Linked DNA regions of Homo sapiens: region 1 is linked to region 2. Evidence: fine-mapped expression QTL. A gene starts in region 2. The other region holds a variant in brackets. All regions are shown on one strand. Distances are between the middles of the regions.

Region 1 (14,531 bases), 46 kb after region 2:
ACAAATAAATTGTTTATACTGCCGTTAGACAGACACAGGGTTGCTTTTAAAATGAGTTTTGGGTAGTGGTCTAATAGGACTTCGGAATTATCAAACAATGAGGCATTCACAGCTTCTCCTGAGGAGCTGAATGATTTTTACTCTTTTTTTTTTTTTTCCTATTCCTGGCTAAACAGAATTTGCTTTTCTTTCACTTCCTGCCGACTTCATGGTATGTCTATTTCCTCTGCTCCTTTACTGACTTTTGAACAAAACCTACTTTTGTTTCTGTCAAGTTTTCTTGTTAAAATATCCTTGCCAAAAATCTTTAGGATTATTATTGGGGGAGGGGATTACTTTCCTTTTTAAATGGATGGTTCTGAAAGCAGCCCTTCGGCGGTCTAGATTTAGAAAAAATAAAGATCATAAACTAAGGGGAGTGGGGACTGAGAAAAATTGCTGTTTTCATTTCAAGACTTACTTTTATTTAAAAATGTTCTAAACGAGTTATTTCAAAAGTGATTCTAAACATTCTTGGCATTTTTGGTGGCAGGCCAGACAGACCAGGCTCTGCTCTACTTAAATAATCTTTATGTATATATATATGCACACACACACACACACACACACACACACACACACACACATATATATAAATAAACTGTGGTAGCTTTATTTGTATTTGAATGCAAGACATTTTGTGGTTCTGTAATTCCAAAAAAAAGAAGAAAGAAAGAGAAAGAGTGACTTCAGCAGAACAGCTCTCTGCAATCAGCCAAGAACAAGGAAACTGGGAGTGAAATAGGGCCTTGAAGATGATGAAAAATATATTTCTAATTAACGATGAGAGAAGTGGAAGCATGTTATTCCCTAGTTGTGTCCATGCAGCAGTGTGAAAACAAGTATTCTAACTGCCTACGTTCTATATCTCGATTTTTTTTTTTTTTTTAGCATTGATGTTTTGACATGTATATTTTCAAATGTTCCCTCCCAGATAAAATTTCCACTAGACTCGTATTTGGCTGAAAGGAGTAAAGACACATATATCATCCTGCTCTGTTTCCTACGTTGGGGTTCAGGGTTCCTGTTGAAGCCAGGGAGGGTGGGAGACAAGAGGCAGGCCCCGTGTGATTGTAAACAATCCACCATCAAAAATCCCATTACCAGCCATCTGCGGCAGCCTCGCCGAAGATGTATTTCTTTGCTAGTGATATTTTATACCCTGGGATCTTTAAAAAGCCTTTCTTTTTTAATTCAGTTTGGCCTAAACAATAACAAGAAATTTGCTTTCTGATGAGTTCTCAGGTTTTGTGTTTACCGTCCCCAGACAAAACCAAACTTTGGCACTTAAACTTTAATTCTTCCCCTCCCCATTGGAAAGCAGGAGACAGTAGAGCTTGTAAGATGAAAGGTGTTGCACAGCGTGGATATGTTCCCATGGCCTGTTGTTGCTTCAATCAGCCTGCGTGGGGGCCTTTACCACAGCCTTCCTCTTCTTAGGCCACCTACAAGTGGCTTGGAAGCGAATGCTCCAGGCTCCGTCCTGCCTTTCCTTCCTTTTTATTGCCTTGGGTCTGGGTCTTGTTCTTAGTAGATCCCATGGATTCAGACCTTGGGCAACTCTCTACCTCCCAAGACGTCCTCCGTTTCACCTAGGGCATGAAAGTTGGTCTTCACCCAATAAGTAGTTTTTGCACACCTGTATTTTTGCAGGAGCGGCTGTGGATGTAGCCCTGGGCAAGGACAGCAGATGTTGCAAGCAGACAATCACAAGACCCTGAGTGCCGTAAAAGGCTTGGTCCTTTTGGAAGTCACAACACTGGGCAGCAGATGGTTTCCGGTTTAAGGGAGGGACTTCCGGAAGAAGTGTTAATTCACCTAGGATTTGAGGATGGGATAAATTAGCGGGATGAAGAATGGGTTAGGAGCATTCTGAGCTTAGGGGACAGCAAGAGTGAAGCCCTCGAGGTCTGAGAAATTGCAAGCATATTCCAGGATGTGTCTGCAGATGATGAGATAGGTCTTCCTGGGTCTCTGCTTCTACTCTTCTGTCTCAAGGAGCTGAGAGGGGAATGGGGCCAGGAAATGGGACCCAGTTTCTTATTATGGCCACTGAAGCGCTGAATTTCCTTCTTAGCTTCCTGGATAAGCAGGTACAGCTTACAAACACATGTGGGCCCTGTGTCGATGGAAAGGACAGCTTATGAACCCCTGGGCTCTATTTCCTAGTCTGTAAAACAAGGAAGTTGGGCTTGGTGACCTCTCTAAATTCGTTTTCCAGTTGTGAATTTCTGTGAAACTATAGAATTGCCTTGGCATAATGATTTTAAAATGGTCTAGATATTTTTCTATAATTATGAAATCCTTTTCTATCTCCTGGGACATCTACATTCCCATTGGTTCATTGTCACCATTCTCTTTATATTTCTTTATATTTTATTAATTTCATGCACCTCTCATTTGCTGATAAATATATCCTAAAGTAAAGAAAATGTGAGCTTTGCATCGCTGGTTACAATGTGATGTACTTGGAGTTGCGTAAGCTACATGCTGACCTAACCATGCTGATTCCTTTATGCTGCAGCCTTGTTAACGAGGTACACGAGGTTGACGACACCATCCAGACCCTGCAGCAGCGCCTGAGGGATGCAGAGGACACCCTGCAGTCGCTGGTCCACATCAAAGCCACACTCGAGTATGACCTGGCTGTCAAAGCCAATTCCCTGTACATCGACCAGGAAAAATGCATGAGCATGCGCAAGAGCTACCCCAACACCCTCCGGCTGGTCGGCTTCTGCTAGGGACCCCACCGGGTGTGGTTTTGATACCCCTAAGTTAAGGCTGAGCCAGAGCACTGTCTCAGCATTTGAACCGAATGCTAATATAGTCACTTATTAAAGGATTATGCTGATGGAAATGTACCAACCTCCTGTCTCGGAAAGCCTTTTGTTTGCATCCAAACCTTAATTTTCTATTATTTACTAGGCGTCTGGGTTATGGGAAGGATATGAAGAAATATAATCAATCTAATAGAGAAGGTAAAAAGGATAACTGGTGTGATTCTTGTCATTTTGTGTGTAATCCGAATGGGCTGGAAAGGAGGACTGTATTCTCTCTGAGGCAGTCAGGAATCATGAAGTAGGTGGTTTCTGAGTTTTGCTTTAAAGGATCCACAGTAAGAAGGGGAAAGGCCACTGGGTATGAGGTAGTTGGGGTAATTTGATCAAAAACAAAGGTAGAGAAATACGGAGTGCATTTGGAACAATAGTAGGTAGGGCCAGCTTGGCTGTGATTCATAATGCATAATTCATAATGTGTTCTGCACGTCTCTTTTTGTTCCACTCTCATCTCTCCAATTCAAACTTTTATTACTTGAGCATTGCTTTCATAAAGCCATTTCCATGCTCAGAGATACTCCTCAGTTCCCCCAGCCCCTGAACCTGGAGTTGAACACCCACTGCCCCCCTTCTCCAGGCACCTCGCCCACTGTATTTCTTCATATGTGACACTTTTGTCCTATGTACTGACAATATATTCTTTATATGTTACTTACCTTCACATTTTGTTTATGGTTTTTTAAAATACACAAGTAAAAATGTGTCAGTGTTTTCTGTGTGATTTATGCCTTTGGAATTATGCTCAGAAAGCACTTCTGTATCCCAAGATAATTTATTTATAATTTATTCTAATTCTTTTGTATGTTTAAAAGTGGCATTTAATCACCTGGAAAGTATGTTTAGATGGTGTAGAAAGCATGCTAGTTTTGAATCCTTTTGGTCTGAGAGCTCTGAAATGGGAAGATGAACCAGGAGGGGAGCAAGATTTTCTTTCTTTTCTCTCCTATTTCTCACGCTTCTGTGTCTCTCTCTCTTATTAGCATTTCTCTCTGTATCCTTGTGTTCTCCTTGCTCTGCCTTAACCACTGTCCATTAACCCCAACTCCATTTCCTTCTCTCTCTCTGTTTCTTAAAAGTGTTTTAAGACCTTGGTTAGTAAATTTCACAAATCATCTCAGAATG[C/A]CAGAAGAGTGGATGTCCAGATGAGAAGCTTGTATTGGGGTTGTGCTGTGGTCTCAGTATATCATTTTAGAAATCAAATTGTAGGTTTAGTTGTTCTGTTTTTGCCTCTAATGGAAACAAAGGTATATAAATGCCACTAAAATTTTTAGCAATGAGAGTAACCAAATGTTGGTAGTTATGACTTTTAGACAATAGTGGGAATAAACATAAATTCAGCATGTCTCTTATTTGTTATGTGTTTGGGGTAAAACATTTCTGACTTTTTTCATGAACTGTATTTTTTTTTTTTTAGGAATATATGCTTATGCAGTCCTTTTACTGAAGCATATATATTCCTGGCATTACAAGACTGTGATGGGAAGGAAATGTAATTCAGACATAGAAAAGTTTTTTTTGTTATTTTGGTAAACCGTGGGCAAGGCTAAATTCCACAAATAAACATTTGGTTTCTCATCTAAAATGTTGCAGCTACTCCAGGAGGGTAAATATTCTAATGCTGAAGTCCAAGAGCTCCAAGGCTCAGAAGCGTGGTCCTGTTTAAGAATCTTAGGACTACAAATACTGGCACATGATCTGGCTTTATTTATTTAAGCCCAAACTATCTTTAATATCATGTGGCTTTAAGAAGGGCTGCTGGAATGTCAAAGGCTTCCACTTACCCAAGCATCATTCAGATTTAGAAATGTGTGTAATTGCCCCTAAATAACCGAGTCGCCTGTAATTTTAGTAATTTCCATTTCTGTCTCCGGAGAGTGTTGTCATAAACACCTCACCTGGCACTTTTGAGTCCTGAGTTCATGCTGTAAATAGCTGAAGTGTGGGGTCTGATTTTAGGTTATAATTTTTGTTTTGCACCAGAAACGGGCGGATTCCTTCCCTTTGTATGCAGGGCTAACCCAAAGCACAAAGGAGGAGGTGAAGCTGCTGCTCATCATTGTGCCCGAGTCTTCCCTTGCAGCCTCCCCTCTTCTAGCCCTGGCCCTGAAACTGTTCCCAGCAGGGCTGGATTCACCATTGGCACCAACTGCCAAGACCAGCCTTCTATGCAGAGTGCTCTGATGATGCTATCTGAGCTCTATATTAATATATATGGTCTGATAAGTATTCATGCATTCATGGGGAAAATAAACAATACTCAATCTCTTCCCCAGGAATGGTGAATCAATTCACCTTGGGGGCCAGTCCTAGACCACTGGGAATGTTTATCTGGAAGGTTGAGTTGAGAAGGATCCTGAGAGGTCAACAGATAGTGCCATATGAAATGGGTGCTGTGGCTCCTGCTGAAGTCCAAGAGCTCCAAGGATCAGAAGCGTGGTCCTGTTTAAGAATTTTAGGACTTCAGCATTTTGGGAGGCTGAGGCAGGAGGATTGCTTGAGGCCAAGAGTTCAGGACCAGCCTGGGCAACATAGGGAGACCCCATCTCTCTACAAAATAAAAAAAATTAACCAGGCATGGTGGCACACACCTGTGGTCCCAGCTACTTGAGGGACTGAGGTGAGAGAATCACTTGTGCCCAGAAGGTCAAGGCTGTAGTGAGCCATGATCATGCCACTGCTCTCCAGCCTGGGCTACAGAATGGGACAGTTCCATCTGCAGGGAATCCAGAATGGGGAAGTGGCTGCATACATTCCCTCATCCCTCTCTCTAAACAGCTCTGAATTCTTTCTCAGCTCAGAGAAATCCTTGGCTTTCAACATCAGAAGGATGTGTCTTGTGACCTCTGGCTCATTCCCATAGGACCTACCCATTTGCTAATTTTGCTAGGAGCTAGAAGGAGACCCTTTCTGCAGCCCACGTTTTCCTTTTGGCAAGGAAAGACCCCTAAATACATCACCATGACTCCTGAACAACTCAGATGGCATCATGGTAGAGTGAGGGGAGAGCTTATTGAGAACAGGGAGCCTTTCATAGCTATTCTAAATAATATCCGCTTGTGTATGCATAGGGCTGTGGGAACCATAAAAATAACTTTTATTTTGCAAGCACTTTTTTCCCTCCCTGTAAAGTAAAGGTTAATTTTTAAGGTGATGTGAAATCTTTGGACTAAGTTTCAGCATTCCCGTCTTTGGCATTTTAGCCCTGCAGTCACTCAGACATAAGAATGCCTTCCCTACTTCCATAAAAATGATGCTCTGCTTGCCCGAGAACCTGCTCTTTAGCAAAACTGCACATTTTCTGATAATAAAAATCCATATCTGTATTGAGGGCCACCCATTTATTTGCAACGAGCTGGTTGTCTTCATCTCTCAACCCCAGTGCTCTTCATGGGTATAGCAAGGACAGGGGCTCCTGAAGAGAGAGGAGGACAAGCAACCTGAGAGGAAAATAATAAGCCAGGTCCACAGACAACACCCATGAGCACCACATGTAGCACAGTCTGAAAGATTAACATATTGATGCTTTGCAGCAGTGCTGGAAGGGGCGACCAAATTTCCCAGTTCCCTAAGGTGGATATCATAGATATTGGTGGGAAATATCTGTGGGAAAATAACCATGCCTCCAAATACTCATGTCCTTGTGAAGTCTTCCCTCCTTGAATATAGGCGGACTCTGTGATCACTTGGACCAATAGAGTGCAATGGAAGTAACACTGTGTCAATTCTATGTCTAGGCTTTAAGAAGGCCTGGAAGCTTCTGCTTTTGGAAGCTAGCTGCCATATAAGAAATCTGACTAGCCTGAGTCCACCATGCTGTGAGGGAGCTTAAGCAGCCCACGGAGAGGCTCCCCAGCCAACAGCCCTAGATGAGCTCTCAGGCTAGGCAGGCACCAACTGGTAGCCATGTGAGTGAGGCCATTTGGGATCTTCCCACTCTCCTAGTGCCCCAGCTGATACCATGTGAGAGAGAAGGGCTGCTCAGTCAACCCACAGAATCTCAAGAAATAATAGATTGTTGTCTTAAACTACTAAGTTCTTAGGTAATTTGTTACGTGACAATAGACAACTAAAGTTTTCACTGGATTCTCAGAAATCAAATTCCTGGAGAGGAAGGACATCTAACATTTGTGGAGTGCTTACTATGATCCCAACATATAACATGACAATCTCCTGAGTCCTCTTGGCTGATACTAGGATGTGAGCTCTTAACTACCATCCTATACTGTTTTTTTTTTTTTTTTTTTTTTTTGAGACGGAGTCTCGCTCTGTCGCCCAGGCTGGACTGCGGACTGCAGTGGCGCAATCTCGGCTCACTGCAAGCTCCGCTTCCCGGGTTCACGCCATTCTCCTGCCTCAGCCTCCCGAGTAGCTGGGACTACAGGCGCCCGCCACCGCGCCCGGCTAATTTTTTGTATTTTTTAGTAGAGACGGGGTTTCACCTTGTTAGCCAGGATGGTCTCGATCTCCTGACCTCATGATCCACCCACCTCGGCCTCCCAAAGTGCTGGGATTACAGGCGTGAGCCACCGCGCCCGGCCCCTATACTGTTAATTGGTCTCTGAGAGGAGAGTAATCCCAGACAGTGGTTCCCTTCTCAGCAACAACAAAAAATGTGTAAAATGATTGCATTATTGGAATTAGATCTGAGGACAGAAGCATTTAAGAAATTTTTACTTTTGGAAAATGTGTATAAAATTAAAACATGAGTGGGATCCAGCTTCTGTGTCATTGATCCTATCTTGAGATTGATACATGTAATGATAATGATAGCCAGCTTTTCCTGAGCAGAACAACTGTACGTGTATTATTTCAACATCATGGCTAAGGTACATACATTTAATTATTTATATTCTAAAATGGGAAAATTGAGACTTAGGGAAGGAAAATAACCCAAAGCCAAACAGGGGCGCATTTCAGAGTCAGGAGTTCAACTCAGATGAGCTTGCTTCCAAAGCTCTTTGCTATCATCCTACAGTGCCTTCTTCTAAGCTGTTTAGAATGAATTAGACATCCTCAAAAGTTGTGTTTTTAAAGGAAATTATTTTAAAACCAATGTTTTAATATCCCAACAGATATTCATGAAGGTGTAATATTTTATTATAAATAATCAATACCATCAGTACAATAAATGTTACCATAGTATTGCCAAGTCTTAGCTCTAAACTTCTTTGATTCTATCTTTAAGTAGAATTTAAGTATAAGAACTGAGTATCTATGTACTCTGTTTTTTCAGATAGAGAAAACCATTCCCTGACAATTTGATAAAAGGTATATGGAGGCTAGTCCCACAACTCATCAATGTCAATGGGTATTGCCAACAGGATGCCAGAAGAGATTGAGTGAGGTACAGTTATTTGATTTCCAGAACTCTGTCATTGAAAACCAACCTAGCCATAAGTGGCCTAGACTACTAAACTATTTACAGCATTCCACCTCCTTAGTCCCTTGTGGATGAGTGGATCCATGTGACCGAGCATAAGGGATGTGAGTCACTTCAGACTTGCATATTTAATTGCCAGTGTGAGATTGTCCAAAGATTTCTTCCTTTTGACATGACAACCGAGAACATTTGAGATATTCTCTGAGCCACCACAATAAACAGAACTTACTTGCTGACCCACTGCAGCCATTCAACATGCGAAAGAAATATATTCGTGCAGTCGTAAGCCATGGACACTATGGAGTTGTTACTGCAGCCTAACCTAGCCTATCCTGACTGATGCACCAACCAGAAGAAACAGCTGAATGCAGGGACTATAACATGAATGGTCATTTTCCACTCTGAAATTCAGACTGTTTAGTTCCCCAGAGTGCAGGTAGTGCTGGCTAGGCAATTGAGCACATCCCATCCCTAGAAATAGCAGGCTAAAATGAAATAGTTTTCAGCCGGGTGCAGTGGCTCACGCCTGTAATCCCAGCACTTTGGGAGGCCGAGGCGGGTGGACCACTTGAGGTAGGGAGTTTGAGACTAACTAGCCTGACCAACATGGAGAAACCCCGTCTCTATTAAAAATACAAAATTAGCCAGGTGTGGTGGTGCATGCCTATAATTGCAGCTACTTGGGAGGCTGAGGCAGGAGAATTGCTTGAACCTGGGAGGCGGAGGTTGTGGTGAGCGGAGATTGTGCCGTCACACTCCAGCCTGGGCAACAAGAGAGAAACCCCATCTCAAAAAAAAAAAAAAAAAAAAAGTTTGTACCTATTTAGGAAACAGGACAAAGCAAGGCCCTCTAAGCACAGAATAGCCAGCCCAGAGGTGCAGGTATTTCTAAGACTATGAGAGCCAAAACAACCCAAGGCGCTTTAGTGTTAAAACACTCAGAAGCTATAGAGTGGGGATGGCAAGCTCAAACGCTTATGGGGCCAGCCAGGAGATATAAGCGAAGGTTATTCAGCTTTCCTGGTATCACTTTACTATAACAGAAACAACAGTGAGGTTCAGTGGCAGCTGAACTTCAGCTGCTGGGTTGGAGAAACAACAAGGAGTTTTAGGGGAGCAGAGAGCAGGCCTCAAATAAGCAGACCTGAAGAACGTGTGCCCAGACTAAAGAGGGAGCCTCTATTCTGCTCTGGAATGTGCCCTGTGTGGCTGGAACTGCTGTACCCTGCTGTTGAGGTTATTGAAACCCTGGTAAGAAACAGAAAGCTCTGGCTTGGAGATTGAAATAATACTATGATGTCTTCAGATGCTTATTTTACAAAGCAACTTAAGAAGGATAACAGTAGAGACGGGTGCCCCAGTTTAGTCCTAGAGCTTAGGTTTGTTTTATTCATACTTCAAATTGCAGTGTCGGTGGCCACACTGGGCCTGAGATGAACTGAGGCCCAGAGATGCAAGAATGTACCAGCTGGGACAGGTAACATGATGTGGTTTTAATTTATAGCACCAGTGTACAGTCCAATAGAAAATGGGAGATTGAGTCATTCTGGGGGACTAGACCTGTAAAATTAACTTTAAAAGTATATGTTGTTAGAAATCAAGAAATATGACCTAACCCATAGTGCAATACCTGTTCATTCATGTCTACAAAAGCAGCATTATAGTGTAGCTTAATTCTATTCATAAAAAATAAAAGAAGCTTGACATTCTCTAACACAAAATTTGAGCTGTCAATTGGGCAAACAGAGGAAGAGGCACATGAGCCGAAGACATGGGCCTTACTACAAATTCCAAATGGATAATACAAAAGGTCTTGACGGCACGTAGTCTTGTGATTCTTTACCTTTGCATGATTTTACAGAAGACTGCGCGGTTAGAGTGTAATTTTGAGTTGAAGAGACATCAAATTAAAATTTAATAACCAGATTGGCATTAGTGAAATACTCTGGCTCAGTAAAGAGAACAAAACAACTAGAGAATTATACTAGTCAACAAAATCCATCCCATGATGAGAATGAGAAGCTCTGTAGCGTCAGTTATGTGATGGATATAATCAAGGCAGCTGCTTATTTTAACATTTAAACCATATCTATATATTTATTTCTGTATATCCATATATATGGATTTTTTGGGTATAGCATCCTTGTTTTTAAGAATTTGAGTTTTAATTTTTTTATGGCCAGGAAGGTGAAGCAAATATATAATATTAATTTACATATATTTTTTCTTTTTTTCTCTGTCCATATTACCTGCATAGCAAATGACTTACATTTTATATCTTAATATTATATAAAATTGTATGACAACATAGAAATATATTACCCTTTTAAGATGATGAAACATTACAGATGAGGCTAAACTCTTTTTTGACCTCTACCACCCCAGTCATAGCCTCTCTCTCCTCAGTTAAATACTGTTATCAGTCAGATGAGACACGCTTATGTTTTTAGTTGTAAAGGCTGCATTGCTTGGCCTTTCGGAAGCCATTGCTATGTCTTTCAAAATAGAGGTTGGAAACCCGTAAGACTTCTTTGAGGAATAATCTAATGAAGTCTTTTTTCGTAATCAATAAAACTCCCTGAAAAATATATAAGCAAGTCAAATTCAGTGGCAAGTGAGAAGAATACACTGAGACCCAGTAGGAACAATAGGATGGTCCAATAATATACAAATAGATCCAAATCTTTGGATTTACTGTCTCCCTGCTCTCGGGCTGGTTGAATCAGGTGTCCTGAGTGACACTAGGCTGGAAACTGGATTTGGACTGGGAATTGTGGTATGCTCGCCTCCAGAGTCATCCTCCTCCTGTCCCCCCTGCCAATCCTTTGAAGAGATGGTCTGTAGAAAATTGCAATTCATCCATTTATTCACGGATTCAATAAACCAATTTTTACTGAACACCCTCTATGTGCTAGTGCTTTATGAGATCATGAAAATAATATGATGAATGAGACAGAAATGGGGTCTGTCCTCACAGAGCTTACAGTCAGTGGATTATACTGGCAACCAATAATCATACAAAGAACTATGTTAATTATGAGAATTTGTAAGGACTTGAGTGTTTGGGCCTTGGGAGGCTTTTCAAAGTTGGGACATTTAAGCAATTATCTGAAAGGTGAGAAATCAATATGCAACACGATGGCAGTGGGAGAGCCCCCATGGGTGTTCTAGATAGAGAGAAACACATTTTAAAAGACCCTGAAAATTTGAGTAGCTATCTATAGGAGTTATGTAGGGGCAGGGCCAGCTTCATTGGTGTGAGACTCAGAAGGGTCTATGCTTGGTTTAGTGCTTTATTCTCACCATCTTGAAATTCTATGTATTTATTTATTTATTTTTGAGATGGAGACTAGCTCTGTTGCTCAGACTGGAGTGTAGTGGCACGATCTCGGCTCACTACAACCTCCGGCTCTTGGGTTCCAGTGATTCTCCTGCCTCAGCCTCCTGAGTAGCTGGAATTACAGGCACGTGCCACCACACTAACTAATTTCTGTATTTTTAGCAGAGATGGAGTTTCACCATGTTGGCCGGGCTGGTCTCAAACGCCTAACCTCAGGTGATCCACCCGCCCTGGCCTCCCAAAGTGCTGGGATTACAGGCGTGAGCCACCATGCCCAGCCCATCTTGAAATTCTTAATAATTTTTGAACAAAGAGCCCTGCATATCCATTTTGCACTGGGCGCCTCAAATTATGTAGCCAATCCTGGGTGTGCGAGTGGGATCTGGAACCCTTTGGAGGGTTTTAAGGCAAGGAGTGACATGAATCTTGAGTCCTGCAGGAGCACTGTGGTTGTGCTGTGAAGAGTGAAAAGATGGACATAGGTATTGCCCTCGAGGAACTAAGGGTAAGGCTGGTAATGCCAAATCCAGCCAAGGCATTTGTTAATAGTAACACATTATAGAACTATATTGAAGGGGATCTGGGGAAATTGGAGGTCCGGCAATCATCTGATAATATCTCCTCGTTGGGATAAGCTATAATCTCTTATACATTGCCTCCCAATCTCTTTCCCTGAGCTAAATACCATGCAGCTCCCTTTGCCTTTTTGACTGAAGGCTCGATTTCTTACATCGATTAAGAAGCTTAAAAACCTGAAAGCTGGCCAGGTGCGGTGGCTCACGCCTGTAATCCCAGCACTTTGGGAGGCCGAGGCGGGGGAATCACGAAGTCAGGAGATAGAGACCATCCTGGCTAACTCGGTGAAACCCCGTCTCTGCTAAAAGTACTACTCGGGAGGCTGAGACAGGAGAATGGGAGCGAGCCCGGGAGGCGGAGCTTGCAGTGAGCCGAGATCACCCCACTGCACTCCAGCCTGGGCGACAGAGCGAGACTCCGTCTCAAAAAAACAAAAAACAAAAAACAAAACCTGAAAGCCATAACTTCCCATTTGAAGCCTCAGATTATCTTTTAGAATTGCTTGGTATCTTTGGCTGAACACTAGGGGCTCCTGTGTAAGGTGGGGCTACCTTTCCAAGGTAGCCTTTTCCTCTTCTTTCCTATCATTCAATGAGCCCAGATGATTGCAATGGGGTCTTTTAGTTGTTTGTCTGAATCCCTACTAATCGAGTTCCATGGACACACTGGAGTAATCTAGAGACAGAGGCTGTCTCCTCTGCCAAATGCAGTGTTTCTGTTGTCTGTGTAGCTTCTGTTCTAGGCATTTCCCATAAATAGTATTTAATGACATTATTGGCAGACACACCACCCTTCTTGTAGTGTTTTATCTATCAGCACTGTCCAATAGGGCTTTCTGCAATGATGGGAATATTCTACATCTTATCTGTCTGAATGACAGCCACTAGCCACGTGCGGCTATTGAACACTGACCAGAGCACCCCATGAAAATTTAGGGCACTAAAGCTTAGCAAGGTTATATAGTTGTTGAATGTGATGCAGTCAGAATAGGGCAAATCTGAACCTAAACCAAGATCTGTTCATTCTCAGTGATCTTTTCTCTATACAATGAATGGGTGGTCTCATGCAACAATTCATTTGCAAAGTCTTACAGAACACCTATTACATGTAATGGTCATTTTGGGGATGCCAAGAAATAAATAGCTCCAATGGGTCAAAAGGGGTGACCAAGAAGAAAGGAAGAGAGAATCGCTTTGTTGATCTCCACGAGCAGAGAAGAAACAAAGGAGGGTCCCTGTGTTGACCTCTGAGAAGATGGAAGAAGGAAGGGAGGGGAGCCCTTTTGTTCACCTTCTGAAGTCCAGGGGTGTTACCATTACTGTTGTACAGTGTAGCCACGTTCTGCGTCTATGTTCAACAAGCAAGATCCTTGATCACTGGAGGGTCTTCATCGTTTGACACATACAGGCTACATGTAGGAAATCCCACTTACGCCACCCAAGGTCTTTGATGAGAGTGAGGCTGAATAACCTGCCCAAGCCCACATAGCCACTGCGAGACCAAGTCCAGCTTGAAATCCAAATCCTGTTGACTTCAGTATCAATCAGGGTGGCAGTGAGTACAGATGCTGCAAACAACGTCTGTGCACTGACACCAGGGTTCTTGGGTGCCAAGGTAAGAAATTTTGATTAATCCTGTTGGGATCAGGAAGCCAGAAAAGCTTTTAATAGAAGCCTCCATGGAACCTACTTAGGAAGTAGGAAGAATAAGCTAGCGGAGGCAGCAGAGTGGAAGGAGGAGAAATCACGTGGTAAGGGTTTGTAAATTAGGGGCTCCTTTCACGCACATCCAGAAGATGTCTTGGAGGTGCTGGGGACAATGGTGCCATCGGAGTGTCAAGGAGAGGAGCTGTTCTGGGAGACCACAGGAAGATGGGCAGTTCCTTTTAGACCAGGAGGTGTTAGCTGACAGTAGACCACGCTGTGAAAACGTTCAGCTGGTCCTTGATGAACACAAGCCACGTGAACTAAACCAACTCATACTCTCAGGGTTTGGGGGTGTCTTAGTCTGTTTGTGTTGTCTGAGACTGGGTAATTGATAAAGAAAGAGATTTATGTAGCTCACAGTTCTAAAGGCTGTAAGAAGCACGGTGCCAGTATCTGCTTCTGGTGAGGGCTTCAGGAAGCTTCCACTCATGGCAGAAGAGGAAGGGGAACCGGTGTGTCCCATGATGAGAGATGGAGCAAGAGAGAGAAAAGAAGATGCCAGGCTCTTTTCAACAAGCAATTCTCTTGGGAACTAAGAATGACACGTTACCCACTCCTGAGAGAATGGCACCAAGCCATTCATGAGGGATCCGTCCCTATGACCCAAACACCTCTCACCAGGCCCACCTCCAACAATGGGGATCAAATTTCAG
Region 2 (14,918 bases):
ATGGAAGACAAAAGGAGGTTCAGCTGCTTTTTCTACCTCAGGTAAGAACACTAGTCTGCTTCCTTTCAGCTTTTTAATATCTCAAATAGATTCCCTCATCTTCATTATCCAACTTATATGAATGCTAATTTGGCTCCATGTTGCTTCTACTCAAATCATTATGGCCTCTTTGATAATTTTCAGGGCCCTTTCCCTAAATAATTCAGCAATAAATGGCCAGAAAATTAGGTCCCTCAATGAGGTGATTCCTAGCTTGTATTTTAGGCTTTTTGAGGACCAGAGACATCCCATTACCTTGAGTAATGAGGATTATAGGAAGGAATCACATAGAATTAAGAAATGCCATGGAAATGGGAGCATGTTTGCAAACGACAAAGTCCTTCAGAATGTAAGAAGGCTCCAGTGAGAGTTATCTCATTGCTTCTTGGCAGATCGAGTCGTGAATCTCAGCCAGAGTTTTGCAATATCAAATATGATGACTCAGTCACTCTCTATATGACTCAATATCAAACCCCATGAGAGAGAGGATCTGCCTAGGTTGGCACTTGAGCTATGCCACCTCAATCCACTGGCCAGTCCACAGAGGGGCCACCTTTGAGCTGGGTGTTTACCTGTGGTCCAAACATTCATGGCCAATAAATGGGGGTGGGGAACACACCACATAAAACATGGCCACTGTCTTAGGTCAGGTTCACCAGAAGAAGACTCCAAGGATTAGTGTGAAAGTGATTTATCAAGAAATGTTCTACTGGGAAAAACTGGGAAAGAAATGGGGAAGTAGGATCTATTATAGAAGGGAAGTTGGGAGATGCAGGAATGTGGTATCCAGCAAAGTCCCAGGAGGGTAACTTTGGTTCATTCCCACAGGAGGAGCTCTGGAAACAGGGTAGGTCATGCCTCAGAGGGTCACGCCTCAGGAGAAGAGCATCTGGGGTATTTATACCCCAGAACTCATTAGTCTTTGGTTATGGATTGGCCTGAGGCACAAATTCCCAAGCACTTCCAGGCTTTCTTGCCTAAGCAAAGTAGATTCTGGCAGCCTGAGGACAGTTCATCTTCAAGGAGATGTAAGAATAAGCATACGGGGAGTCTGTGCTCAGGAAAATGATCAAAGGGTCCGAGGAGACATGGGTTGAAGTGTGGACAGCGTCTGCTATAGCTTCGTAAAGAGATAGCTAGAGAGGCTTCCTTCCCCAGGGGCCCACAGTCAGCACGCACACCCTAAGCTGAATAGATTCTTCCCTATATAGCCTGACAAGCTGTGTTGGAAGCTTGCGCTAAGGTTGTGGAAGACTCAGCCCGCTATCTGCCACCTTCATCTCCACAGCCTGGCAACCTCATAACTGGCTGACTGAAGCGAACGTAAATTAGACAAAGACCAGCACAAATCAGACTCAAGTTAACACACGCCAGACTCTGGCTGTTTCTGGTTTATAAACAAAAGATAAACTATTTCCAACAATGTCAACAAAAATAAATTAACTTTCTTATTAAATCACTGAGAAATGACATTTCAAATATTTTATAAAAATACAGCACATCTATCTATATCCAACTCTGCTTTTGTTTCCACAAACTCTTGTCAGTTTAAAGATCTACACAATTTTCTCTGTAGCCCGTAAATGAAAACTTTCAGTTTTTCCTGGCTGGCAGTGCTTTTTCCTCTTCTGAGCTCCGAAGAGACTGGGTTTCTTTCTGATGGCTTTGACCACACCAGAGCCTGCACTGTAGGATTTTTGCCCACGTCCCACCAAATGTTAACCTCTTAAGGACAGAAACAGGGGCCCATTCACAGTGATACAAACATTTAACAGCTGAATCTCTGGGGAAAAATGTATGTATCTGTACATAATGTTTATTATATTTTAATGATATTAAACAATTCTTAGCTTATAATTTATAAATAGTAATAAAATATACAAATACTCTGTATTATAAATTCCATATAGCCAGTTGGTTTTTACAGAATTATTTTGTTGATTTTTGCCAAACTCTTGTATTTCTAACCAACCTGTAGTTGCAATTAATGAATAAGAGGAGTCCAACATGAATGTTGGTTGACAGCTCCGTTCACATTAACAAGACAAAAATGAAGATGTATATGGAAACTTTAATGACACGAATGACTTCTTTGCTGAATCAGATAATTATTTTCAAATAGTGGGAGAATGTAGCTTCAATTTGTGTGTGTGTGTGTGTGTGTGCCTGTCACAATTTCATGGCTACAAACAGGAGATACTTTAATGTGCATTATACTTTCCATCACTTTCTTGAGTTTAGACAATCAACAAAACTATAAATCAAGCCTTGCTTTGTGGCTATTGATCATTTCCATAATGTAAATACTCCCACTGTAGTCATTTTCAAGCTACCAATGTTGCTGATGTCAGAGTTGGGAAGAGATGCTCAGTAGTACATCACGATAAAGTGTTTCCATTATAAAGATACAATAGATGAAAATAAACTTCAAGACATAAAACAATAAAATATTGTGAAATAATTAGAAGGTGATAAATTTTGGGTATCTGTTGCCATTGTTTTAATATAATTTACTAAACAGTAAATTTATATAATGTAGTTTTTAATAAAGGCTGTGCTTAATGAGCTTGCAAAATTCTTGAAAATTTAACAATAGTCTTGCAAGCCAGTATGACCCAGTTCCAGTACACCACTGTCACTCACATTTCATAATTCATTGTCTTGCATGCTACTGAGAGTTACAAATTGTTCAGTGATTGCATGACTGATGGTAAATTAGAGATGTTGACTCTCTGATTCTGTTTGACATGCTCTGTCTTCCTCTTAAGAAGATTCTAACTTCTTACTAGTGGTAGTAGCTGAGCTCAAAAGGTAATTGTTCTAAACTAATAAAGGTCCTATTGGCTTATCTGGATGAAACACCATGTACCTCTGATAAGATATCAGCCTCCTTAGACCAGTTTGTGTCCTTCTGTTAGTAGTAGTCAATGTTTCTTTATAATACTCGGTTTCTACAGAATCATAGAGAGCATATTATAAATGCCCTCAGATCTTAAAATGTCAGATCTTTTTAGGTAGCCTTGGTATAGTTCCCCGTTTTTTAAATACATAGTACAAAATACAATCTATAACACAACACTATCCATAATCCAATGGTTACCATTTAATGACTCTTAACAACATTAAACCAAGCATTTTTCCCCACTCTAAGTATCCCATCTGTGTTTCTATCTGCTTCTTTAGGTTATAAGGATCTCCCTATAATGCTTAATATGAGTCATTTTTGTTGTTGATGATGATTAATTTATGACATAGGACTGTCGGTGAATAATACCAGGACCTTATAAGTGAAACTTTAAGGTTAAAGTTCAGGGTAGTCCCAGATGATACAAGAAAGTCTTCAGGCACGAAGACTGATTGATTGTCTAGCCATCTTGGCTGCTGGGGAGGTTGTTGATTACTCACAATGCATCTCACCTGATAACTCCAACCTTGATTTCTTTTCCCTTGAGTTACATTTCTCCCAGGACAAAAAGAGGAGCAGACAGTTCCTATAGAAATAGGTTCCATGCCTGATGGGCTCTCCAAGAACCATTTACAAGCGAGCATCCCAGCTTCAGTCTGTTTTCTGGAAAAGACTTCGATAGAGCATCTGATTCATTATCTTCCCTTCGGACTAGTGAGGCATTATTGTTTTCTTCTTATGGAGAGATCCAGTTGATCTGGGGGTTTGCCCAATACCACACCACCAGTAAGTTCCAGGAGGAAAGCTGGTCATTGTTTCCCAAGTTATGATTCTCATCCATCCATGCATTCATTCAATAAACACATAGCAGAAGTGCACCACAGGCCTAGCCCGATGGTCAGTCAGTGCTAAGGACTAACAAGGAGAATGCACAGGAAAAATGTACAGCCATTTGAGGTAGGGGAAAGATCACAGGCTTTGGGGTCAGACATCCTAGGTTGAATTCCAGCTGTATCACCTTCTAGCTAATGTGGCCTTGGTCAAGTTACCTAACCTCTAAGTCTCTGTAAAAGAGAAGTACTGTTATAAATCTCATGGGGTTAGTCTGAGAGATATAAATGAGGTATATGAGGCTTGCACAGAGCAGGTGCTTCAAAAATGGTTCCTGTGATGAAGGCTGGAAAAACACTGTCCTTATTCTCATGGGACTCATAGTCTAACAGGAGTGGCAATCTGTGAAAACATACAACAATAACATAATGGCTCTCAGAGAAGCTAAAGAGAGCACTGTGGAAACCCACCACTTTCTACTTGGTCAGGAGACTGATCATGAGCAAAAATGTGACTGTGACCTTGGGCATATCACTTAACCTCTTGAATCATAGCTCTTCCATCTACTAAACACGGGATAGATATTCAGATAAGAATAATCCTGGCTGAGTTTACACATCTTGGCTCTCTGGAAGCATTCCCAGCAAGGCGTGCCCTGCAATTTCATGCTCTGAAAAAGTCTATTCAATTGAAAAAGCTGACAGTGATACACACCCCTTTTAATAGCTTAGTAACATAAGCAAAACACAGCCGTGACAACTGGTATCACCTTGCCGTTGTAAGTGATAAAAATTCTCAATGAATGCATTACACACCCAGCTGAGGTTCCTAACCAATCTTCCATGAAGCCCTTTTATGTAAATATTAATGTCATATTCTACCCGTTAAGTCCATTCAGATCCCACATCCAGTTCATAGATTGACATTGCTGTTTCTAAAAGTACAGATTCCCAGTGCAGAAATCAAGGAAAATAATACCATTGATATTGATGATGAAAATTTGAGTAAAATACCACTTTTTTCTAAGTGATTTGCAACAACAGTGAAAAAACACGTCTAGAAACTATATTACTATAAAATTGAGATGGAAGACATTTCTGTTACCTCTCCTACAATGCAAATATTACCAATTTCTCTGTTTACATAGCTATAAATGTAAGTATGGACTTAAAAGGTTTTAGAAGAAATCAGCAGGTTAGAGACAGTTTGGCTATAAAGGCAGCGTTTTCTTTTTCCACTTCCTAACATTCCCCTTCCACTCCTCACTCACACCCCCACATACCATCAGCCCTCCCCTTCCACTCCTCACTCACACCCCCACATACCATCAGCCCTCCCCTTCCACTCCTCACTCACACCCCCATATACCATCAGCCCTCCCCTCCACTCCTCACTCACATCCCCATATACCATCAGCCCTCCCCTTCCACTCCTCACTCACATCCCCATATACCATCAGCCCTCCATATCTATAGATTCCACATCCTTGGATTCACCAACTGTGGATAGAAAATATTTTTAAAAAATAAAGACAACAATCCAACAATAAAACATAATACAAATAAAAAAATAAAGTATAACAACTATTTACATGGCATTTACATTGTATTAGGTATTATAAGTAATTTAGAGGTGATTTAAACTATATGGGAGGATATATGTGGGTTATGTGCAAATACTATGTTATTTTTATATAAGGGATTTGAGCATCTGAGAATTTGATATTTATGGGGTCCTGGAACCAGTTCCCCAAGGATACCAAAGGACAACTATACCTCTTTCACCTCTCTTACTCTTTTTTTCTTTACTTTTCCATGAATCACCTTCATGCACACACACACCCACACACACACACACACATTTCTAGACAAGATACTTAATAGGGAAACTGTCATCAAATCACAATGGAGTTTTCTATACTGAATACACAGATAAGTCAGTTATTTCTATATTGCTTTAGAGAATGTCTGAAATAAGCTAGATATGGGCAAAAATTTTTCTTTTTCTGACTGAAATATATTTTTAGGGCACGTTAATGCTAAAATTTGGAATTGCTGCATTATGCTAAAGCAGGTTCCCCAAACTGTGTTCCATGAGTGTCCTGGGGGATGTTAAAATGTTCTGAGTTTTAAAAACTCTGTGGTTAGAATTCCATGGGAAAATACAAATTGGCACATTACAGACTCGGAGGATTCTTGTGTTAAAGAAAGGTATTTAACTTTTTTTGTGTTAGAAATTCACAAATATATTTGCTGATGGAACTATTATTTTATTAACGATTGATTGATTGAATAGTTCAGGGAACACACTTCCGGAAACACCAAACTAATGCAGTAAGAATTTTCTTTTTTGTGTGCTGCAGAGCTGAAGAGTGGAACTCGCTGACTCCATTTCAGCCCCGAGTGCCGCCCCTCTTCTGATGGAAGCAGACTGTGCTGGCACTACCTGCTTGCTTTCTCATCCACTTGCGTGTCTAACAAGCTTCCCATTCACTGTCTCCTGCTCTGCCATCCAGAATGAGCAGAAGTTTTTCCATTGCCCTATTATAATCTTGCAGATCTTTAAAGGATCTCACAAAGTAGTTGTGAGCACCTTCAGCTGTCTCAGCCAGTACTCTTGTGGTACCATTGGACTTTGTGCTAACAGCAAACATCGCCTGTAAGGACTCCAGTCCTAGAATCTTGGGCGGCAGCGGGGCGGGACTCGGGGGTGGGGGGGCGGTGGGGTGGGGGCGGGGTTTGTTTAAACTCTCTTGGACCAGCCACCTGCTCTGTGGCCACTCTGTGGACCACTCACTCTCCTCTCTGGAGAGTGTCATTATTCTGACTGCCTTTTTAAAGGTTTTCATCCCTACAAAAGTTGACTTTAGGACCTCCTAACAGGGGACCTCTGTCCCAGTACTGGCTTTGTCTGCTGTTGTCAGTCTCACACAAAGTAATTCAACAAGCCATTAGTATTTGTTGACTAGGTGCTGGTGCAGTAATACCTGCCTCTCAGGGCTGGTGAAAGAGGTGGAGGAGTTCATGGATGGAATGAGTGGTTCCTGACATGGCATAATCATTAAAAGCTACTTCTTCATGGTTGGTACTTTGTGCTTGTAGTATAGAGGTGAGGAGCACAGAATTGAAAGCCAGAAAGAACTGGATTGAAAGCGCAGCTCTTCCTCTTGTTGTCTGTGTGGCACTGGTCAAGCTACCTAACCTCTCCAATGGAATCCCCACTTCATTTAGACAACGGAAATGATAATGGCCTATCCCATTGTGGTATGAGGAGCCATAAATGAAATACTGTATGTAAAGCTAGCATAATATATGATATATGGCACAGAGTGAGGGTTTAATAAATAGTAACTATGATTTGTATTAGTGCAGAGCAATGGTGGGGTGTGTATGTCTGTGTGCAGATGCAAGGACTGCTCAGTCTATGGAGTCAGAAACATCAGTAAGTAAGCATAACATCAAGTGGATTGTACATGCTACACAAATATACACAGGGAAAGTAAATTAATTTTGACAGACAAAACAAACAGTATTTTGGAGGTAGCATTTGACATTGACATGAAAACATGAGTAGATTCTATAAATTTGGGGCAATATTAAGGAGGAAGAAGATGCTAGGTACAGGGAACAGCATGAGCAAGTCAGGGATCAGAAAAATCACAGGATGTTAGAGGCAGGGTTGTGTGTTCACTCATGTTTGGGATCATGGAGTGGGGAGTGTGGACACGGGGCTGCACTGCCAGGCTAGGACCAGATCATGGAGAGCTCTGGATGCTGATCTGAGGAGTTGAGACCTCCTTTTTTAAACCCTGAGGAACCAGCAAAGGTTGGAAGAGGATAATTATAAGATTCATCCCTGAATGAACTTGCTCCCCATCTCAGCAGCAGCGCTGTCGTGGAGCCACTGGGGTTGTGACCCCACTTTGTTTCCATTCCAGCACTTGGCAAAGGGCCAGACATGTAGCAAGGACATCAAATAAATGTATAGGGGGCTCCCATCAGAACATTTGGGTTTTGGGAACACTGGAGTGGCTGTGACAGAGCCGGGAGCTTTCCTCTCATCATCCACATCAGGGTTTGGAACTAGAAAGTCTGGCATCTAATCCCTCTGTTGAATTGTGAGCGCAGCTGTGGGAGAGGTGTTTTTGGTTTTGTGTTTTTGTTTTAATCCCCCTTAGGAGCTGTCAGAGGTGCAATGGGCCTCCTCACAGTACTCTGCCCTCCTCAGCACCAGCAGGTGAACTGCTGAGTTTTCAGTGGTGAGCAAAACAGTCCTGCTTCCTTCCCTCCCCTCCCCTGTTGACACTCATATTCTGGAAGGGAACTTAGATGTTAATTAAATAATCACACAAAATAAATAACTGGAAACTGGAATGACACAAATGCATGTGCAAAGGCCCTGAGGTGGCAAAGAGCTTAGAGCATCAAGAAACCTGAATAAGAGCCAGTGTAGGCTGGGTGTGGTGGCTCACACCTGTAATCCCAGCACTTTGGGAAGCCAGGACGGGCAGATCACCTGAGGTCGGGAGTACGAGACCAGCCTGATCAAAATGGTGAAACCCCGTCTCCACTAAAAATACAAAATTAGCGGGGCATGGTGGCACATGCCTGTAATCCCAGCTACTCGAGAGGCTGAGACAGGAGAATCACTTGAACCTGGGAGGCAGAATTTGCGGTGAGCAGAGATCGCACCACCATTGCACTCCAGCATGGGCAACAAGAGTGAAACTCCATCTCAAAAACAAACAAACAAACAAACAAACAAAAAAAGCCAGTGTAGCTAGTACGCAGTGAGTGAGGGGGAGAGAGGCATGGGGTGAGGTCAGGGGAATAGGAAGAATGTGATGATTAACTTTAGTGCTGGAGGAGAAATGGAGAAAGCAGGCTGTGGACGTGAGTCACTGTGAGGATGGGAACGGGGGTGGAAGTCCAGGGGTGAAGATGGCTAGGCCCACACTTGATTTCTGATAAGGATAGACAGCTCAAAGGGGCTGATAGCATCTTGATGAAGGGCGATGGTTGAGTGATAGGAAGGCTCAGAAAGACTGGAGAGGAGGTTTGGTGACTCTAAATAGAGTGAAAATGTAGCAGCTAAGGAAGTTATAAAAATGACTTCAAGTTATGAAAATGACTAAGGCAAAGTTATAAAATAGGCAAAGTCTGCTTTATTGCTTCTCCACTTCTGTATCTTTGATAGTTTCCTACCCCACTAAACATCACACTTCATGCTTTCATTTAACAAACATTGACTGAGTCCCTCTTTCATGGCAGGTAGGAAGCCCCATGCTGGGGATACAGAGATGAACAGAAACAGACACATTCCTGAACTTGTGGAGCTGCTGAGAAAGTAAGGTTGAATAGCTGAATCCTAGTGGTCTTGCTTTATTTTTTTTAATAAGCATTGTAGGAGGTCTCTATCGTACTGTAAAACTGAAGGGCAAGCATTAACCTCAATTCTGGCAAAGACTTGATAATCATGAGACAATTTTTTTTGAGAGGGTATCTAAATTATTTCCAAAACATCATTCAATCCTTTCTATGGAGAACAGAGTTGATCAATTTAACCTGAAATTTTAATCAGGAGGTTTTTGAAATTCACTGACTCAATGTATCATTGAAAAGATCAAATTCTGCTATAATTTCACCTGTTTATTTTTAAATCAGACATTGAATGAATTTTGTCTTCAATTAGCAATGCTATTGGGCATCTAGATGTGTGCAAAGCACAAAGACTGCTCATCATCTTTAAAGAGTTTGTGGGCAATCAGATCTACTTTAGAACAGTTGCCAGTCTTTTGGCCCAAAGAACAAACATGGCATCATTTGCTGCATTGTCTACGGATTCTAGGCATCTGCAAAGCCCGTGCTGAATACTGAAAATACAAAATGCAGAACACTATGCATGAGAAAAAAGTAATAAAAAAAGACAGCTCAGAGTGAAATGTTTCTTAGGCCGAATGTAGAAAAAGTTGCTGATAAGGAACATAGTGGGAAAACTAGTCAGGATTTGCAGTGCCCTGGTGTCGGGTATGGGAGCCTTGTCTAGTCTTGTGTCTAGGCAAATGAGTAGCCTCTGAGCACTGGGTGTTTTCTGTGGTTTTCCTCTTTGGGGAAAATACTCTGGGCTCATCTCCACAGTTAGAGGGGTCGTGTTGCTTAATGTAAACACTTGAGGCAGCATTCTAACTTTTCTAGATTAGGTTCCCATGAGTTCGGTTGGCCTGAGTCAGCCTCTAATAAACTCGGGACACTGGCATAACCAAGAGTCTGAATTGGCAAAGCTGAGGACCAGCCCCCGACTTGAAGTCACTTCATTGAGGTCTCCTAGGGGCTGGGCAGCCTGCCTTATCCTGGCAAGTCCCTCCGCCTCGTCCTTGGGTGGAGTGCCACACAGTGATTCCCAGAAAAGCCAAAAATAATTAACTGAGGGCTTTATTTTCTTTAGCATTACTAGTTACCAAAGTAACTCGGTGAATTCTCTTGCTGCTCACACGGTTAGACTGCTGCCTCATGGAAAGATGCCTTGAAGTTTGACTGATTTGAGTTTTAGTGTTAGCTCTGCCACTGAGTCACATTGTCTAAGTCAATTAACTTCTCGAACTTCAGTTTCTTCATCTGTACAATATAAACCCCTCTTACAGGTTTGGAAAGAGGTTGCATGGATGAGCAATGATGTATGTATGTAAAAATGTGGGCCAGCACCTGGAAGAAACAGTACGGGCTGCTGTTTACGGAAATATTTGCTGAAGAGAGAGAGGGAAAGCCCAAACCATTTTCTTAGAGTGAGGAAGCAGGGAAGGAACACTAGATAATTCTGTCACAGGAGAAGCTCTGCTGGAGAGAAGAGAGGCTGGTCAGGAAAGGTGGGGGCTTGTCAACACCTAGGCAGGTGTTAGGGTTCCAGGCAGCCCTGATGTGCCTTAGAATCGGCCAAGTTCTTCGCAGCTGGAAGAGTTCCGAATCAGGCTTCACAGGAGAGGTCGGGAAATCACCGAGGCCTCTCCCTTGGGCTACTCTTCACCCCTTTCACCTCCCAAACCAAGGAGGTCTCCCGGAGGGCGGGGAGCCTCGGTTACTAAGCGTGAGCGCGTCCATAGTAACCGCCGCCCGACGGGTTTCCCTCCTGGCCTGACAGCTCCCGCCTCTCCTATAACTGGCCAGTCAGCTCCGGCGAGCCGGCCGGGGCGGCCGCTGAGTGGCCCTCAGGCGCTGCTATCGTCACAGATAGGAAAGGCGGGGCCAGGGCCAGACTGGTCTGGGCCCCAGTCGAGGGCTGCAGGTGGTAGGCTGCGACCCCTTCCTCCCACAGCCCCTTCCCGCCCCTCGCCGGGCATCCGCCGACAGGTGAGTGGTCTCGCTGACTCTAGCCTGCCTCTAGGACTACCCCAAAGGATCCCCCTTCGCCAACCAGGACTCCAACTTCTCGCCTCAGGATCGCGGGAGGTCGCGGACACCCTGCAATTCCTCCCCGCGATCTTCACTTTTCCTTCCAAATAAAAACCGTACAAATCCACAGGCACCTCCCACCCAGACGTTGGTTTCCTCGTAATTTACCTTTCTGATGCTTTTCAAGGGTTTTCAAGGGATGCCCAGGGAAGGGGCATCCGAACCCCCGACACTGTGCTAATTCGTTTAATTTCTTAATTCTAATAATTACCCGTTAGCAGCGCTGTGCCTTTCCACTGCGGTGCTGGCCGCCCCGCACGCTGTTCCTCGTCCCCCTCTGCTTCAATAGCCGAGCCTTCAGATCTGCAGCCACGGGGAGGAGAGTTCAATCACCTGGTCTTGTAGACCGAGCTCCTTAAATTCAGATCAAAGCTGTTCTCTCACCGCCCAAAGTCGTTTCTGTTTAGCTTGGCTGCAAAGCTTTCGCTTGTGTTTGGGCAGTTTAGACCAAACCCCTTTATGTTTTCTCCTGGATGTATATAGTATTGTAGAGAAATAAACATCCTGGAAATGGGTAAAATTATTTGTTTGATTATTGTGAAAAAAATATACAGTTTTACTAACAGGCGAAAATGTTTTGAGGTAACTGACAAAATATTCTACTTTTTTCTTCTTTAAAATAAAATACTTCACACAATAAGTAGAGTGAACCCAGGGGTGAATCCATGTACCCAGTCCAAACTTAAACCAACAAAAAATCGATTACAGGCACAATTAAGGTCTGTTATGTAACCCTTGGAAATCCCATTCCCCTCTCTCCTTACCTATCCCTATTAACCAACAGAATTTAGCATTTACTTATATTCTGCATATTTTTATACTTTTACTACTCATATGTTTATCCTAAACCAATGTATACTTTTTTTTTGAGACGGAGTCTCGCTCTTGTCGCCCAGGCTGGAGTGCAATGGCATGATCTCAGCTCACCGGAACCTCCGCCTCCCAGATTCAAGCGATTCTCCTGCCTCAGCCCCCTGAGTAGCTGGGATTACAGGTGCCTGCCACCACAACTGGCCAATTTTTTTTTTTTTTTTTTGTATTTTTAGTAGAGAGGGGGTTTCACCAAGTTGGCCAGGCTGGTCTCGAACTCCTGACCTCGTGATCCTCCCAAAGTGCTGGGATTACAGGCATGAGGACCGCGCCCGGCCTACTGTTACTTTTTAAGTTGATAGAATGGTTATGCTGTACGTGTTGCAGGTCATTCATTTGAACTGTTGTGTGGTGATTCTTGCATGAATTTACCACATATTATGTATGCATCCTCCTGTTGATGGACTTTTAGTTTGCTCCCTTTAAAAATACTAGAAAGGAATTCTTGTACATTCTAATTGTAAACATATTTGCATTTCTCTAGGTACATACCAAGAAATTGAATTGCTGAGTCACAGGTAATTTGCCATTTCAACTTTACTGGATACCACCATCTAGCTCTCCAAAGTGTAATAATTTATATACCATCGATGAATAGAGTTCCTTAACCAAACTTTTTTTTTTGAAGAGATGAAGTTTTCCTGTATTCTTATGTAATATATGCATAAAGAGAAATTAAACATTGATGTCTGATATGATTTCTTCTACTTCTGGTATTTGTTAGTGTATTGGCAGCGCTGTTTTATTTCCGCTCCTATTTAGAACTGTAATTAAGTGGCTACAAAGGAACTAAAGGGGTTTGTATGTGAGCCCTTCAAGCCTATGCTTGCCCCTGATCTAAGGCAGGGTGTGGGGCAAGTCATGTAAACTTGTGTCTTCTGCAGAAAATGGTCTGTAGATTTTTGTACTTTAAAATATTTATGATCTTCCAGTCTTGCTTAAATATGCTAATAAAATGTTTACCCAGTATGAAGCCAACTTTTGGATAGCAAATGGAGCTTTCCGGTTCTTAAAATCTCTGTGTGATTGATTCTATATTTAGTATGTTAATATTTATGGAAGACTATTGTAGCATTTTTTTCAGTATGTAAATAACAGTTGACTGTAAATTAAGTGCACCTAGTCAAACATTGTATTTGACTTTGTAGCCCATGTCTCATTTCTTAAAATTCTGTTTGGGCACATGTCTTAGTTTTCTGCTGCTATAACAGAATACCAGAGACTGGGTGATTTATAAAGGCGGAGATTTATTGGGCTCACAGTTCTGGAGGCTAGGAAGTCCAAGATCCAGGGGCTACATCTGATGGGGGTCTTCTTGCTACATCATAATATGGCAGAAGGACAAGTGAATGAAAGAGACAGAGACAACGGGGGTGAATTTATTATTTTATCAGGAGCCCACTTCTGTGATAACTAATCCACTCCCACAATAATGGCATTATTCCATTCATGAGGTCAGACCCCTTATAACATAATCACCTCTTAAAAGTCTCACCTCTTAATACTGCACAATGGTAATTAAATTTCAACTTGAGTTTTAGAGGGAAACATTCAAACCAAAACATCATGATTAAATGTATAATAAGCAGTTGCCTAATTTAGGGGATTTTTCCATAGCTATTTTCAGTCATTTTTCCAAAGAATTTGCTGTTTCTTTGCAAGTATGAGATATTTATAGCATCGGTTAATGATCTTAGTATGTGCTGCACATGCTCTCTTAAGAATTGACTGGCTGGGCGCGGTGGCTCACGCCTGTAATCCCAACACTTTGGGAGGCCGAGGCTGGCAGATCACGAGTTCAGGAGATCGAGACCATCCTAGCTAACACGGTGAAACCCGTCTCTACTAAAAAAAAAAAAAAAAAAAAAAAAAAATTAGCCAGGTGTGGTGGCAGGCGGCTGTAGTCCCAGCTACGCTGGAGGCTGAGGCAGGAGAATGGCGTGAACCCAGGAGGCGGAGCTTGCAGTGGCGCCATCTTGGCGCCACTGCACTCCAGCCTGGGGGACAGAGCGAGACTCCATCTCAAAAAAAAAAAAAAGAATTGACTGAGTTAGAATTTAGAGAGTAAGTTAATCATTGTGAAAGATGCGCACCACCAAAGTAAGCCATAGGCTTTTAAAAACTGAGGTATTTCTTCCTTAAAAGTTTGGTAGAATTCACCAGTGAACCCATTGGAGCTTGAAGTTTTCTTTGAGGAAAGTTTTTAAACTGTAGATTCAATTTTTAAAAAATACTACAAGGCTACTCAGGTTTTCTAACTCTTCTTTAATCAGTTTTGGTTATTTGTATCTTTCAAAAATTTTGTCCATTTCATCTATGTTGTCAAATTTCTTGCCATAAAGTTGTTAGTAATATTGCTAAATATTGTATTAACCAATATTTTGTTTACTTGCTCTATGATTTACTAACAGACAAACGTTGAAATATTGAAATATAATGTGGATTTGTCTATTTCTCATTTTAGTTCTGTCAATTTTTGCTTTAGGTGTTGAAAGTTAGGTAAATGATTACATAAACATTTAATATTGCTATATCTCCTTGACTGATCCCTTTATCCTTATTTTTCTCTTTATCTCCGATAATATTTCTTGTTTAGAAGTCTACTTGATTTGATATTAATATAGCCACTTCTGTATTCTTTTGATTAGTGTTTAAACAGTCTATCTTTTCTCATACTTTTATTTATTTCTTTTTTCTTTTCTCTTGAGATGGAGTCTCACTCTGTCGCCCAGGCTGGAGTGCAGTGGCATGATCTCGGCTCACTGCAACCTCCGCCTCCCAGGTTCAAGCAATTCTCTGCCTCAGCCTCCTGAGTAGCTGGGATTACA

Direction of the effects. Alleles are on the strand shown, and positions count from the first base shown. SD is a standard deviation of normalised expression in the study named.
With allele C in place of A in region 1, the expression in skeletal muscle of the gene that starts at base 11,039 in region 2 is lower (small effect, 0.29 SD a copy in GTEx).

Evidence for each region. PIP is the estimated chance that this variant, and not a neighbour inherited with it, causes the effect.
Region 1: its variant is fine-mapped to the expression of TEKT3 in skeletal muscle (GTEx, PIP 0.94).

The regions. Positions count from the first base shown.
Region 1 is chr17:15,292,185-15,306,715 of GRCh38, reverse strand. It overlaps TEKT3 (tektin 3), which reads left to right. Exons shown (of 9, transcript NM_031898.3): 9 at 2,564-2,904. The coding sequence ends at 2,780. The region is part of intron 1 of LOC124903932 (a long non-coding RNA gene); the gene reads right to left. Among named protein-coding and RNA genes, the nearest start is that of PMP22, 34 kb to the right of the region's middle. The variant C/A (reference allele first, on the strand shown) is at 3,999.
Region 2 is chr17:15,337,718-15,352,635 of GRCh38, reverse strand. It overlaps TEKT3 (tektin 3), which reads left to right and starts at 11,039. Exons shown (of 9, transcript NM_031898.3): 1 at 11,039-11,118; 2 at 12,575-12,608.